2 separate regions of the Homo sapiens genome follow, and region 2 is linked to region 1. Evidence: fine-mapped expression QTL. Tissue or cell type: testis. Region 1 holds a variant in brackets; the other region holds the start of a gene. All regions are shown on one strand. Distances are from middle to middle.

Region 1 (8,217 bases):
TTTGTCCCATAAACGTCTCTAAACCCCATCTTCGAGGAAGTGGGTTTGAGACCTGTTTTCCCATCTCCTCACTTGGCTGCCTCATGAATAAATGCATTCTGTGCTGCAAAACTGGTCATCTTGGCGGGACGCGGTGGCTCACGCCTGTAATCCCAGCACTTTGGGAGGCTGAGGCGGGCGGATCACGAGGTCAGGAGATCAAGACCATCCTGGCTAACACAATGAAACCCTGTCTCTACTTAAAAAATACAAAAAATTAGCCAGGCATGGTGGCAGGCGCCTGTAGTCCCAGCTACTCGGGAGGCTGAGGCAGGAGAATGGCGTGAACCCGGGAGGCGGAGCTTGCAGTGAGCCGAGATTGCGCCACTGCACTCCAGCCTGGGCGACAGAGCGAGACTCCGTCTCAAAAACAAAAAAAAAAAACTGGTCACCTCAGTGATTGGCTTACTGTGCGATGAGCAGAATGGGCCTCATTTGGTATCAAGAGGAGGAGCTGATAGAAAATGCTCAGGGATGGGCTGGCAAAGACATTTTCAGAGCAGCGCCGTGTTATGTTCTGTGTGCAGTTGTTTGCGCTGATGCGTTACAAGCCCCTCTGGTGGTCCCCCGCTGAGTCTTTGGTAAAGTCTGCTGCATCTGCCAATTCTTTTGTGAGCAGATTTGTTCTAGGGGTGTGGGGGACTAAGAAAGGGGTGGAATATAAACAGTGCAGTGTAAACAGTGCAGTATAAACAGTGCAGTATAAACAGTATAAACAGTGCAAACAGTGCAGTGTAAACAGCGCAGTGTAAACAGTTTTACCCACAGAGGCTGCAGGCCCATTGCTGACCATGGAAAAAGAGGTGGGCTCCTCGGGAGTCCACAGAAGTCCTGGGGAGGGCTTTGGACTTCGGCAGGCCTGGAATGAGGGTTCGAACTAATCTCAGTCTAGATCTCGAGGGTCTGAGAGGCTGTAGAGAACATTTAGGCCGGTTGGCATGAGCAGTTCTTGCCCCAGTTCACCTCTAATTCCCCGACTGTTGCTGTTCATGCTAAGTGAGGCCTTGTTCCCACTCGTTCTTCTTCTTTTTTTTTTTTTGAGATGGCGTCTTGCTCTGTCACCCAGGCTAGACTCCACTGGTGCAATCTCAGCTCACTGCAACCTCTACTTCCTGGTTCAAGCTATTCTCCTGTGTCAGCCTCCTGAGTAGCTGGGATTACCGACACGCACCACCATACCCGGCTAATTTTTGTGTATTTTTAGTAGAGATGGGGTTTTGCCATGTTGGCCTGGCTGGTCTCAAACTCCTGACCTCAAGTGATCCACCTGCCTCGGCCTCCCAAAGTGCTGGGATTACAGGCGTGAGCCACTGAGCCTCGCTCCACTTGTCCTTCTCACTGATGTCAGCACCAGAAATGGCCATGTGGATAGTCACTGGCAACTTAAAACCCAAGTGTGCATGGGGAAGTGCACGGCAGGGTCATTAAAAGGAGTCCAGCCTCTCTTCTTCCCTTCTCTATACTTTCACTTCTGGAAAAGACCGGAAACCTTGCCTCATTCCTCTTTCTCCCATGGCCCCATCCCCACCCCGCTTCAGCCCATCAGCCTCCAAATGTAGTCCAAGTCCTCATCTCTGTACCTGGACCATTGCATTTTCGCTGGCCCCTAGCCCCCACTGGGCTCCCCACTGGCTGCCAAATACCAGTGTGACCCTGTCCCTTCCTTGCTTTAAGCCTCTCAGTAGTTTGTTTGTTTGTTTTTGAGATGGAGTCTTGCTCTGTCACCAGGCTGGAGTGCAGTGACATAATCTTGGCTCACTGCAACCTCCACCTCCCGGGCTCAAACGATTCTCCTGCCTCAGCTTCCCGAGTAGCTGGGGCTATAGGCGCCCACCACCATGCCCAGCTAATTTTTGTATTTGTAGTAGAGACAGGGTTTCACCATGTTGGCCAGGCTGGTCTTGATCTCTTGACCTTGTGATCTGCCCACCTTGGCCTCCCAAAGTGCTGGGATTAGAGGCGTGAGCCACCATGCCCCGCCTGCCTCTCAGTAGTTATTTACCACTGAAGCAGAGTGAAGCCTGTGCTCCACATTGCTTCATGGCCAAGACCTCAGGGACAAGTGGACACACCAGGCAGTGGGAGTGGATATGGCAAAGCCAAACCCAGATCTCTTCTCAAAATAATTTTCCAGAGGGCAAAAGCAGATGGCTACACCGAGAACTCACGCCAGCCCAACACACTTTGATCTCGAGGCCTCTGGAAGGGAAGGTGCCTAATGAACTACTGAAAGCCAGAGATGCAATGACAAAGGTACCAAGACTGGAGGTGATCCAGGTCTTTCATCCAAGAGCCCCAAGACGTAGCCTAAATTCATGCTACGGTAATCCCAGCACTTTGGGAGGCCGAGGCGGGCGGATCACCTGAGGTCAGGAGTTCGAGAGCAGCCTGGCCAACATGGTGAAACTCCGTCTCTACTAAAAATACAGAAATTAGCCAGGTGTGGTGGCGGGTGCCTGTAATCCCAGCTACTCAGGAGGCTGAGGCAGGAGAATCGCTTGAACCCGGGAGGCGGTGGTTGCAGTGAGCCGAGATCACGTCACTGCACTCCAGCCTGGGCGACAAGAGCGAAACTCCATCTCAAAATAAAATAAAAATAAATAAATTGACACAGTCAGTGCCTCGCTCCCACCCCCACCTCCAGCATAGCACCATGACAGTCTTCTCACATAACAAGTCCCAAAACACACCATCGGCATCCAGAAAGTGAGAGTAACTCGTTACAGTTGAGACCTCTCACTCCCGGTCATTATCTCATTTCAATCCAAGAGGTAGACTTCTTCATCGCCCCTGACATACACATGAGGAAAAGGCCCAGAGAGGTGAAGTGATGCCTCAGGTCACTCAGCCAGTTACCAGTAGAGCAGATCCTTCAATGCAAGTTTTTCTCCAACCCTACACAGCAGTCGTACCAGGGCCCCAGGCTGCAATCCCCTGGCCCAGTGCTGATCGGTGGCTCCCAGGGACACGCCCTGATGCCAGCGCTGGCAGATGTCTGCTGTGAAGAGAGCAGGAAACTGTCCCTTGGAAAGCTGAGATGCTTACCTGAACTGTGAAAGTATCCATATGTGAGCAGCTAAGGAGACAGCAGTGGCTGGAGTGCTGCAGCTCAGGCACAGCTGGTGAGAGGCATTCCTCACTCACAGGCCTTCACCCACTGCTAGAGACAGTGAGCCCCATCCTGACCACTTCCCCTTTCTAGTCAGCCCACGGGGCAGAGACCCTGGCGTCATCTCTAGGCAACCATCCCTTTTCCAGGGAAGCTCATGACCCACGGCTGTCCAGAAGCCAGAATCTTCTCACTGCCCCGTGTCGCTCC[C/T]GCAAGGCCTACCAGAGGACCCTCATGGTGTGGTAGGGGGTCCTGGCAGGGGCCAGGGGCCAGGGTGGAGACTTGGCAGTGGGGGTGGGTTTGGTGTCCCCACAGACGAGTTTGCCGTGAGCATTCCTGGATGTGGCAACCTCAGTCTCAAGAAGAGCGACAGGACGCCAGCTCCCATGCAGAGACAGATCCAGGTAAGAAACCAGCTCATGTGTGACAAACTCACCATCTCACCATGAAGGTGACTCTTGAAAGCTCCTGTGCACCTTGGAACTGCTGAGACATCTTCTGCTTGGAGGAGGCAAGGGACAGGCTTCCTGTTTCTAAAGGCGTGTGAGTGGCGACCTTGAGAAATGTGGCCAGTGGAGCATTTTGACTGAGTTGGGTCCCCTCGTGCAATACTGTGAGACAGAACTCCCAGCGAGGCCCACGGCCTCTGACCATGGGGGTTGGAGTGGGGAAACCAATTAGCCATTTTGTTGAATTGGCTGGTTCTGACTCAAATGAGCAGTCACATTAGTAAAAATAGGCAAACGGATGTGCATTGTATTTGCCCAGAGCGAATGAGTTGTTATCCATTTCAGTAATAATGATAACCAGATATGTCTGATAAATATCTGATAATGTCTGATATATGTCTGGTAAATTTAACAAACACCGGGCTCTGGCTGGGTGCGGTGGCTCACACCTGTAATCCCAGCACTTTGGGAGGCCAAGGCGGGTGGATCACCTGAAGTCAGTAGTTCGAGACCAGCCTGGCCAACATGGTGAAACCCCATCTCTACTAAAAATACAAAAATTAGCTGGGCATTTTGGTGTGAACCGGTAGTCCCAGCTACTCAGGAGGCTGAGGCGGGAGAATTGCTTGGACCCGCGAGGTGGAGGTTGCAGTGAGCCAAGATCACACCATTGCGCTCCAGCCTGGGCAACAGAGCAAGACTCTATCTCAAACAAACAAAACAAAACATCTGGCTCAGAAGATTCCTGATTTGCAGTGTTTACTAATTTCTTTTTTCTTTTTCTTTCTTTCTTTCTTTTTTTTTTTTTTTTTTGAGATGCAGTCTCACTCTGTCGCCAGGCTGGAGTGCAGTGGCTCAATCTCAGCACACTGCAACCTCCGACTCCCAGGTTCAAGCAATTCTCCTGCCTCAGCCTCCCAAGTAGCTGGGACTACAGGTGTGTGCCACCGCATCCGGCTAATCTTTGTATTTTTAGTAGAGACAGGGTTTCACCATGTTGGCCAGGCTGGTCTCGAACTCCTGACCTCAAGTGATCCACCTGCCTCGGCCTCCCAAAGTGCTGGGATTACAGAGTTGAGCCACTGCACCTGGCCAAGGCCTGAACTCTTTCTTCTTAGGCTCATCCAAAGTTTAGCTGCTAAAAAACCTTCCTAAAAGCCAATTTAAAATTTTCTTCTAGGCCGGGCACAGTGGCTCACGCCTGAAATCCCAGCACTTTGGGAGGCCAAGGCAGGCGGATCATGAGGTCAGGCGTTTGAGACCAGCCTGGCCAACATGGTGAAATCCCGTCTCTACTAAAAATACAAAAATTAGCCAGGCATGGTGGCAGGTGCCTGTAGTCCCAGCTACTTGGGAGGCTGAGGCAGAAGAATCGCTTGAACCTGGGAGGCGGAGGTTGCAGTGAGCCGAGATCGAGCCACTGCACTCCAGCCGGGGTGACAGAGCAACACTCCGTCTCAAAAAAAAAAAAAAAAAAAATTCTCTTCTGAGGGGTGAATAAATGCTTCTGTGGATAGAGCTCATCCTAGGCTAACAAAGCTGTGACTTCTTGGTTTGTGTTTCATTCATTCATTCAATAAATTACTCAATAAATTATTTTGCTAACCTTTAAGGACCTCAGTTCAGCTGTGATATAGTAAACTCTGTAGCCCTACTATTTCTAACAATGCCTTTTGCACAGCAAGTTCAAGCCTGAGGTGTCAGGTGATCAGAATTCCAGGCCCGGTTTGACAAAACTTTCTTTGTGAATCCTTCCCTTCTCTGAGCCTCAGTTTCCTTGTTGTAAAATGAAAGAATTCAATTGACAAATATGAAAGTGCTCCAGGGATTTTGCCATCTGCCTTCAAGAAAGTCCCGCAAAGTGTAGGAGGAAGTTGAAGCCATAATATGATGCAGGCTAAATACAATGACCTTCAATTTGTGCCAGACCCTGTGCTCAACAAGTAGAGACTCAGAACTGGGCAAGTCATTCATGGGTAGAGCACATGGCACATGTTCTACAGGACAGAAGGCACATAAGTTATTACTATGCAAAGTGATGAATGCTAGTGCTGTGGAAGCACAAAAGTGGGAGAGAAGAAAGGGTCTGAGTGGTAGCATTTGAACTGGGCCTTGAAGGATGTGTAGGAGCTCACCAAATGGACAGAATGTGGACAGACACAAAGCAGCCATAGTATTTGGAGAGAAAGAGATGGTTGCATGGCTGATCAAGAGTGAATGTGTTGGGCAGTCAGAGGCTTGAGAGCAAAGTTTAGGGACACACACCACGGCATCTGGATCTACCCACTTCCTTGCTATCTACATTCTTCCCCGACTCCACCATTTGTCTTTCCACCACAAGAGGAGGGCAGGAAGTTGGGGCGGTTGTGTTCTTTCTGCACATCTGAAATGCCACCTGCTGGTCTGGGCAACTAAAGAGGTCCCTGAGGGCCCTAGATTAGCGGCTGGACCAGAGGGTGTCAAGGAGAATGAAGGGCACCCTCTAGTGGTCACCTGTGGTGCTTTCTCCTCAGGATTCTGGTCCCTCTGACCTCCCCGTAGGGATGGCTGGACACACAAGATGTTCACCTCTTAAAGCTACAGAGACCATCAGGCTAGAGGACACTCAGAAGGGATTCCAGTCCACCCTTCATCTCATGACTCAACCTTTTTGTCAACATCCGGGTGGCACCCAGCTTCTGCCGTTTTGTTTCTTCTCACTCAGTCATCTAAGTCATGTGTAAAATGAGGTGTTATTCTTTGTGCCACTCACAAGTGTCAATTAATCCCCATCATGAGAAAAAAACTGAAGAAAGAGAAATCATAAGATACAACATATAATTAGAACATTAATAGATTTTATTGCAGTTTTTAAAAAGGTGGGGGTTTTTGTTTGTTTTTGTTTTTGTTTTTGAGACAGAGTTTCGCCCTTATTGCCCAGACTGGAGTGCAATGGCGCGATCTTGGCTCACTGCAACCTCCACCTCCTGGGTTCAAGCAATTCTCCTGCCTCAGCCTCCAGAGTAGCTGGGATTACAGGCATGCGCCACCATGCCCTGCTAATTTCGTACTTTTAGTAGAGATGGGGTTTCTCCATGTTGGTTAGGTGGCTGGTCTTGAACTCCTAACATCAGGTGATCTGTCCACTTCAGCCTCCCAAAGTCCTGGGATTACAGGCATCAGCCACCACTCCGGGCACAATAACTCATCTTTAAAGAGCTCTGAGAGCAATATGGGTGGCCAAAGCACTCAGGTGGAACCAGAAGTCATCACTAAGCAACCGTGGCTGCTTTGTTTGTCCCTAACAATAGCCAAGCAGATGTTGTAGCTCCTCTGTCTCCCACCCTGGCCCCATGACATTGAGGTGGGGTCGTTCCAGCTCAGATGTAAAAAGGCAAGTGTATAAGTATTTGGGGTTGTGGCAGGAGGCAGCCGTGTCTTGTGTATGAAGGGAGTCCCTGCCCACTTCTCCCCATTTCTGGAGGTAAAGATTCCCATGAAAGGTACTAGGAGCATTGGGCCCCTAAACCCCAGAACCCATGAGTATGTTATTTTAGATGGTGAAAGGGATTTTGCAGATATGACTAAGGATTTTGAAGTGGGGAAGTCATGCAGGATTATCGACATGGACCCCATGTAATCACAAGATCCTTCTGAGAGGGATACAGGAGAGTCAGGGTCAGTGGCAGGGGATGTGCTGGCAGAGGCAAGAGACTGGGGAGATCCGAAGAAGGGGTCTCGAGCCAAGAAATGCAGGCAGTCTCAAGGAGCTGGTAATGGCTGGGCAATGGATTTTCCCCTGGGACAGGGATGGAGAGACAGCAGTGATTTCAGTTCTCACTCTTGAACCTTCTCTCTTCTTCGTTCCCAAACATGAGTCCACCAGCCCCATTACCACTCAACTGACTGGGAGCCACATCAACCATAACTCTTATGATTTACCAGTTGTAATACTTAAGCATTTTCTGTGGCCTGGCAATTTATTTATTTATTCATTTATTTTTGAGACGGTCTCACCCTGTCACTCAGGCTGGAGTGCAGTGGTGCAGTCGTGGCCCAACGCAGCCTCGAACTCCTGGGCTCAAGCGATCCTCTCACCTAAGCCTCCCAAGTAGCTGGGACCATAGGCATGCACCACCACACCTGGCTAATTTTTAAATTTTTTGTAGAGATGGGGGTCTCGCTATGTTTCCCAAGCTGGTCTCAAACTCCTGGCCTCAAGAGATTTTACCGCCTCGGCCTCCCGAAATGCTGGGATTACAGACATGAGCCACTGTGCCTGGCCTGGCAATTTAACCCAACTCAGTCATCTCTCCTCTGGACACTCTCCCCATGACATACTTTGCAATGGTTTTAAAATATGCTCATACATTTTTTTGACACTCCTCCCATTGAGCTGTGGGAATCTATGTCCCCTCTACTCAAAAGTGGGCTGACGTTAGTGACTCACTTATAACACTGACTGTAGGGGAAGGAAAGCTGCTTAACTTTTGAGGATAAAAAATTATGCAGCTTTGGGCGGGACGCGGTGGCTCACGCCTGTAATTCCAGCACTTTGGGAGGCCGAGGCGGGTGGATCATGAGGTCACGAGTTCAAGACCAACCTGGCCAGTGGAAGGTCCCCTGAATGGGCTACCCCAT
Region 2 (6,959 bases), 44 kb before region 1:
GATGGAGTCTTGCTCTGTTACCCAGGCTGGAGTGCAATGGCGCGATCTCGGCTCACTGCAAGCTCCGCCTCCCGGGTTCACGCCATTCTCCTGCCTCAGCCTCCCGAGTAGCTGGGACTACAGGCGCCCACCAGTACGCCCAGCTAATTTTTTGTACTTTTAGTAGAGACGGGGTTTCACCACATTAGCCAGGATGGTCTCGATCTCCTGACCTCGTGATCTGCCCGCCTTGGCCTCCCAAAGTGCTGGGATTACAGGGGTGAGCCACCACGCCCAGCCAAAAATTTGACATTTTTAATTTAAAAAAAAATATTGAGTCATGTAGCCAAAAAAAAAAAGAAAAGAGAAAGGAAAAAATAATAGCAATGGGGCCTCAGTATACTGCCCAGGCTGGTCTTGAACTCCTGGCTTCAAGTGATCCTCCCACCTTGGCCTCCCAAAGTGCTGGGGTTATAGGTGTGAGCCACTGTGCCAGGCCATTTTTTTTTCACTTTTTTTTTTGGAGACAGGGTCTCTGTCACCCAGGCTGGAGTGCAGTGGTGTAATCATGGTTCACTGCAGCCTTGACCTCCCAGGCTGAGATGATTCTCCCACCTCAGCCTCCCAAGTAGCTGGGATTACAGGCATGCTGCAGCACACATGGCTAAGTTTTTGTAGAGATGGGGCTTGCCGTGTTGTCCAGGGTGTTCTGGAACTCCTGGCCTCAAGGGATCTTCCTGCCTCAGCCTCCCAAAGTGCTAGCATTACAGGCGTGAGCCACTGTGCCCAGCTTGTTTTGTTTTTTTCATACATGCTCTCATTCTGTCACCCAGGCTGGAGTGCAGTGGTGCAATCATAGCTCACTGCAACCTCAAACTCCTGGGCTCAAGCAATCCTCCCACTTCAGCCTGACACCATAGGCACACCACCATACCCAGCTAGTTTAAATAATTTTTTTGTAGAGAAAAGGTCTTGCTATGTTGCCCAGGCAGGTCTCAAACTCCTGGCCTCAAGGGATTCTTCAGCCTCCCAAAGTGCTGAGATTACAGACATGAGCCACCATGCCTGGCCAAAAACAAATTAGATTAGAAAACAATAAAAAGTAGTGAGAAGTGATTTGACAATGCTGAGGAAAGAAATGGAAGGGCAAATAAAAAGCATTATGTAGATGAAATTCACATAAGGAACAACAAAAATAATCACTACAAGGTCACAATGAGGCCTGGAGAAATAATAAAAAATGAAATGAATACAAATGTGATTACAGAGAAAACCAGTAACTAAAGAAAGATAATCAAATACATATAATTAGTGTTCCTAAAGAAAAGAGCAAACACAGGCCGGGCGCAGTGGCTCACACCTGTAATTCCAGCACTTTGGGAGGCTGAGGCAGGCAGAGTACCAGAGGTTGGGAGTTCGAGACCAGCCTGACCAACATGGAGAGAAATCCTGTGTCTACTAAAAATACAAAATTAGCTGGGCGTGGTGGCACATGCCTGTAGTCCCAGCTACTCGGAAGGCTGAGGCAGGAGAATCGCTTGAACCTGGGAGGCGGAGGTTGCAGTGAGCCGAGATCGCACCACTGCACTCTAGTCTGTTGACAGAGCGAGACTCTGTCTTAAGAAAAAAAAGGAAGTTGGCCATTAATTCAAATAAAAACAAACAGCATGAGCCAAGAAAATGTGTCTACACTCAAAGCTGGCCTAGGGGCCACTATTTTTTAACTTAAGAAATGCCACTATTTCATGCCCAGTTCTTAGTATCTTTTAACTATGTCAATCCTTTTTAATTCACATTCATGGGCACGCATTAGGTGAAGCTAAACAAAGAATCTATGCCTAGAGGAAGACTCACACATGAAACAAGGTAGTAAGAGCCTATGAATTAGATGCTAAAAGCGCTGCGGTGGCAATCCGGGAAGGCTTCCCAAAAGAAATGACTTTTGAAGTGTGATACCCTACTTTGTTTTAACCTGAGTGACTCTCTCCTAGCAGAGAGAGAGCCGGACAGACTCCATTTTAGTTTCTCCACTGGCAGCCCCCTTTCACCTCCCTCCCTTAAGGCATAGCTAGTGTAAACTGACTCAAAGCACGTCCAGGAATGCACCTACTGATAAGATATTGAGGCAAGCTGCACCAGCAGCTCCTGGGGACGCGCTCGGTGGATGGCAAGCAAAACCCCTGCATTTATCTCTTTGTGATAGTTTAAGCCCGTGCAATTGGAACTGTTTATATTTTGTAACTGCATTTGTAACCAATTAATTTTTCAACTTTTTGCCAGTTCTGCTTCTGTAAAAATTGCTTCAGCTAAAATCCCCCCTCCCCTATTTAGACCACGGTATAAAAACAAAACTAGCCCCTTCCTCAGGGCCGAGAAAATTTTGGGCGCTAGCTGCCTCTCGGTTGCCGGCTAATAAGGACTCTTTAATTTGTCTCAAAGTGTGGCGTTTCTCTGTAACTCGCTTGGTCACAATAGAAGCTGCTCCTAAAAGCAATGTAGACCCTTACAAAGAGACCAGCCCACCTAAATCCCTCCCTTGTTTGAACTCTAACAGTCCTAATATTTTAGACTGAGTAGTAGAACATATATGAACAATACAGTTCATTCCTGTGGCTTAGTCTAGCCTCCCCAGCGGGGTCACTCGTGGGATGCAAAAACCAGATTTGGTTACATATACAAATATACCTGGCACAGATGTGGGCGAGGAATAATCAATTTATGCCTGACGGTGGATTCTGGGCCTCGGGAAGATGCCGTTAGCGGTACCCACAGGAGGGAACTGGAACAGGCAAGAGTAGCGGGACAGGGCCGGGAATGGGGCACGCCGAGACCAAGAAGCCGACCGAGAGCAAGAAGGCCCAGTCATGCGCACCCGGCGCCTACATCCTCCTGCGGTCCCCCAGGCCTCTCCCCATAGGCATATGAGCTCTGCTCCACTCCTCGCTTGCCGGTGGACGCAGGCGCCGCGGCCGCCAGCTCTGTGAACGCAGCGGGGTCTCACCTCCAGGCTACCCCCAACCTCCCGCTCGGTCGGGGGCCCCTCCACGGCCGCTATCACTGGGTCGCGGCTCCTAGCGCCACCATCTTGGACCCCGCGCCTGGGCCAGGCGAGAACTTCCGGTGCGCTCCCCGGGACTGCGGTCCCCCAGTCCGCGCCCCGCCCAGCCGTCCCCCGTCGGCTCCAGCCAATCCGCGCGCGCTCCCCTGGCCGTCTCCCACCGGATCAGGTGTCTCCTCTGCGCAGACTCCTCCACGACGCCAGTCGGCGCTGGCGTAGCTCGGCTCAGCCCGGCGGAGTCTGACTTCCGGAGGGCCAGCGGCGCGCTGGCTGGTTACCAAGGTTACCGCCGAGAGGCCGCGTCCTCAGCTGGTCCTAGACATGCGTGGCGTCGGGGCTGTGGCACGGTCGGGTCCGGGGTGAGTGACCCCTTCAAGTAACTACGTTTTTGTTCTGCCCTTTTGTTTTGTTTTTGAGATGGAGTCTCGCTCTTTCGCCCAGGCCGGAGTGCAATGGCGCGATCTCGGCTCACTGCAGCCTCCATCTCCCAGGTTCAAGCGATTCTCCTGCCTCGGCCTCCCCAGTAGTTGGGATTACAGGCGCCCACCACCACGCCCTGCTAATTTTTGTATTTTTAGTAGAGACGGGGTTTCGCCATGTTGGCCAGGCTAGTCTCGAACTCCTGTTCTGCCTGTTCTGTTTTCATCTTTTGTTATTGTTCCCTGCATGCATTTGTGGTCTCATTCATTGATGACTTCTATTTGCAATGCCCGGTCAAAGGCTAGGCGATACAGATCCCAACAAGGACAGCTTAATGTTTAAAAGTGTAAGTTCCGAAGTGAGAAAGTCAGACACTCAGAATCCTTGCCCCACCACTTAGGGGCTATGTGACTTTGAACAAGTTACCTATTAATAGCTTCTTCGCGCCTCCGTTGCTTCATTTGTAAAGTGAGGTAAATAATAGGACCGACCTCACTGACATATGTATGTGAAGTTTGCATGTGGCGAAGGCCAGATACATATTAGTTATTACTATGGAGATGATGTTGGTTCGCGTAGCGTAGGATCGTGGTAAGGGTTATATATGTATGTAAAGATGTAAGATGTCCAACCCCAAGCCTTTCCGAAGCAAAACTGTCAGTGCACTAGTCACTTTGGCTTCTCATATCTCTCTGTCCCAAACTTTGGGTTGCACGAATTATGCACGTTTCACTCTTGAATTTGTAAATGCAGCTACTACCAACTATTCCTTAATTTGCACAACTACATTTGAGATAGTATTTCATTGACTGTGTTACATTTTCATTGAAATACTGAGCCATGTCTCAAATAGACTTCAATTATAGTTGCTTTTATAGTTCCTTTTGCTTTACCTCTCTTAATAAGAGTGCACTAATAGAAGTTACTCTTTGGAATTTAGAAATGGGTTTTTAAGGCAGGGCACGGTGGCTCACACCTGTAATCCCAGCACTTTGGGAGGCCTAGGAGGCCGCATCACTTGAGCTCAGGAGTTCAAGACCAGCCTGGCCAGCATGGTGAAACCCCCGTCTCTACTAAAAATGCAAAACAATTAACTGGCATGATGGCAGGCGCCTGTAGTTCCAGCTACTCGGGAGGCTGAGGCAGGAAAATAGCTTGAACCCGGGAGGTGGAGGTTGCAGTGAGCCGAGATGGAACCACTTCACTCCAGCCTGGGCAACAGAGCAAGACACTGTCTCAAAAAAATAAAAAAAAAAATAGACTGTTCCGTGTCCTCTGCTCCTAGAGGCCCAGCCTCTGTGGCCCTGTGACCTGCAAGTATTGAGAGATCCACAGCTAAGACACCGGGATCCTCTGGGAGGCAAAAATGAGTTAGAACTCATAAGTGGGAGTTGAACAATGAGAACACATGGATAGAGGGTGGGGAACATCACATACCAGGGCTGGTGGGGGGTGGGGGGCTGGGGGAGGGATAGCATTAGGAGAAATACCTAATGTAAATGACGAGTTGATGGGTGCAGCAAACCAACATGGCACATGTATACCTATGTAACAAACCTGCACGTTGTGCACATGTACCCTATAACTTAAAGTATAACAAATAAATAAAATAAAATAAATGGGTTTAAAAAAAATCGTACAGGCTGGGCGAGGTGGTTCATGCCTGTAATCCTAGCACTTTGGGAGGCTGAGGCGAGTGGATCACTTGAGGTTAGGAGTTCAAGACCAGCCTGGCCAACATGGTGAAACTCCGTCTGTACTAAAAAATAAAAAAAATAAAAAAAAATTAGCCGCGCATGGCAGCATGAGCCTGTAGTCCCAGCTACTAGGGAGGCTGAGGCGGGAGAGTGGCGTGAACCCAGGAGGCAGAGCTTAAGTAAGCCAAGATTTTGCCACTGCACTCCAGCCTGGGCGATAGAGCAAGACTCCGTCTCAAAAAAAAAATAAAATTATCTGGATGTCGTGGTGCGTGCTTGTAGTCTCAGCCACCTGGGAGTCTGAGGCAGGAGAATCGCTTGAATTGGAGAAGCGGAGGTTGCAGTGAGCCAAGATCGCGCCACTGCACTCCACCCTGGGTGACAGAGCGAGACTCTTCTCAAAAAAAAAGAAAAGAAAAAAGAAAAAAGAAGTGGTGTAGATCGTGAAAGTATTAAAAGGGAAAATATTTGTAACATGCATGATAGGAAAAGGGATAACATGCATGACATAAAAGAGCTCCACATGACTTCAGGTTCCCTGAGAGTGCCTTGGGTTTTCCTCAACATTCACTGTATCACCAGTGCCCGGCACAGAGCCAGCACTCCATACATATTTGTAGAATGAATAAATTACATAATGAATCCATGCTGCTGTCAGGGGTAGCATGTGAACTCTAAAGGAGATCAAAAAGAAGAGCTATTCTTTTTAAGACTAAAAAGCCAAAATAACCACTTTTGGCAAGACTTATATATTTCTCAATAAAAAAATGCAGCTGCTGTCTTCCCCACACCCACTGCCTCCCATTTTCATTTTTCTGGCTTATGCAGATCTCAGTTCTTAAAATAAATTTTTTTAAACTTTATTTTGTTATTTTAAAAGTAGTATAAGAATTACAAGAAAACATTCGTACACATGTAAAATGGTTCTGACGACAACTAACCCTGACAGATTTTTTTTTTTTTTTTTTTTAAGAGACAAGGTCTCACTCTGTCAGTGGCATGATCATAGCTCACTGCAGCCTCATCCTCCTGGGCTCAAGTGATCCTCCAGCCTTCTGAGTGGCTGGGACTACAGGTACTGCCACCATGCCTGGCTAATTTTGTTTTTAGTTTTTTGTAGATATGGGGTCTGCCTAGATCGACCAGGCTGTTCTGGAACTCCTGGCTTCAAGCAATCCTGTCACCTTAGACTCCCAGAGTGCTGGGATTACAAGCATGAGCCAAACCTGCCACCACTCCTGGCCTACCAGATTTCTTTTCTTTTCTTTTCTTTTTAACTGAGATGGGAGGCTCCACTCTGTGGCCCACGCTGGAGTATGGCGGTGCAATCACAGGTCAGTGCAGCTTCAAACTCCCAGGCTGAAACAATCCTCCCACCTCAGCATCCCAAGTAGCTGAGACCACAGGTGCACACCACAACACCCAGAAAATGTTTGTACTTTTGGAGAAACTGAGTCTCACTATGTTGCCCAGGCTAGTCTTGAACTCCTGGGCTCAAGCAATCCTCCCATCTCAGCCTCCCAAACCCAAACTGCTGGGATTTCAGGCGTGAGCCACCGTGCCCGGTCTTGGAGCTTATTTTATTTTATTTTATTTTATTTTATTTGAGACAGAGTCTTGCTCTGTCACCAGGCTGGAGTGCAGTGGTGTGATCTCAGCTCACTGCAACCTCTGCCTCCTGGGTTCAAGCGATTCTCCTGCCTCAGCCTCCTGAGTAGCTGGGACTACAGGCGCGCACCACCACACCTGGCTAATTTTTGTATTTTTAGTAGAGACGGGGTTTCACCATGTTGGCCAGGATGGTC

What was found. PIP is the estimated chance that this variant, and not a neighbour inherited with it, causes the effect.
Region 2: ZNF594-DT starts here. The variant in region 1 is fine-mapped to the expression of ZNF594-DT in testis (GTEx, PIP above 0.99). The same link has a PIP of 0.9 or more in whole blood.

What each region holds. Positions count from the first base shown.
Region 1 is chr17:5,231,651-5,239,867 of GRCh38, forward strand. SCIMP (SLP adaptor and CSK interacting membrane protein) reads right to left here and starts at 3,210. Exons shown (of 5, transcript NM_207103.3): 1 at 3,085-3,210. The coding sequence starts at 3,105. ZNF594-DT (ZNF594 divergent transcript) reads left to right here. Exons shown (of 6, transcript NR_152840.1): 6 at 3,464-4,353. RefSeq lists enhancers at 3,452-3,651, 5,597-5,896. The variant C/T (reference allele first, on the strand shown) is at 3,359.
Region 2 is chr17:5,188,768-5,195,726 of GRCh38, forward strand. ZNF594-DT (ZNF594 divergent transcript) reads left to right here and starts at 3,240. Exons shown (of 6, transcript NR_152840.1): 1 at 3,240-3,396. ZNF594 (zinc finger protein 594) reads right to left here and starts at 3,101. Exons shown (of 2, transcript NM_032530.2): 1 at 2,981-3,101. RefSeq lists a silencer at 3,036-3,235.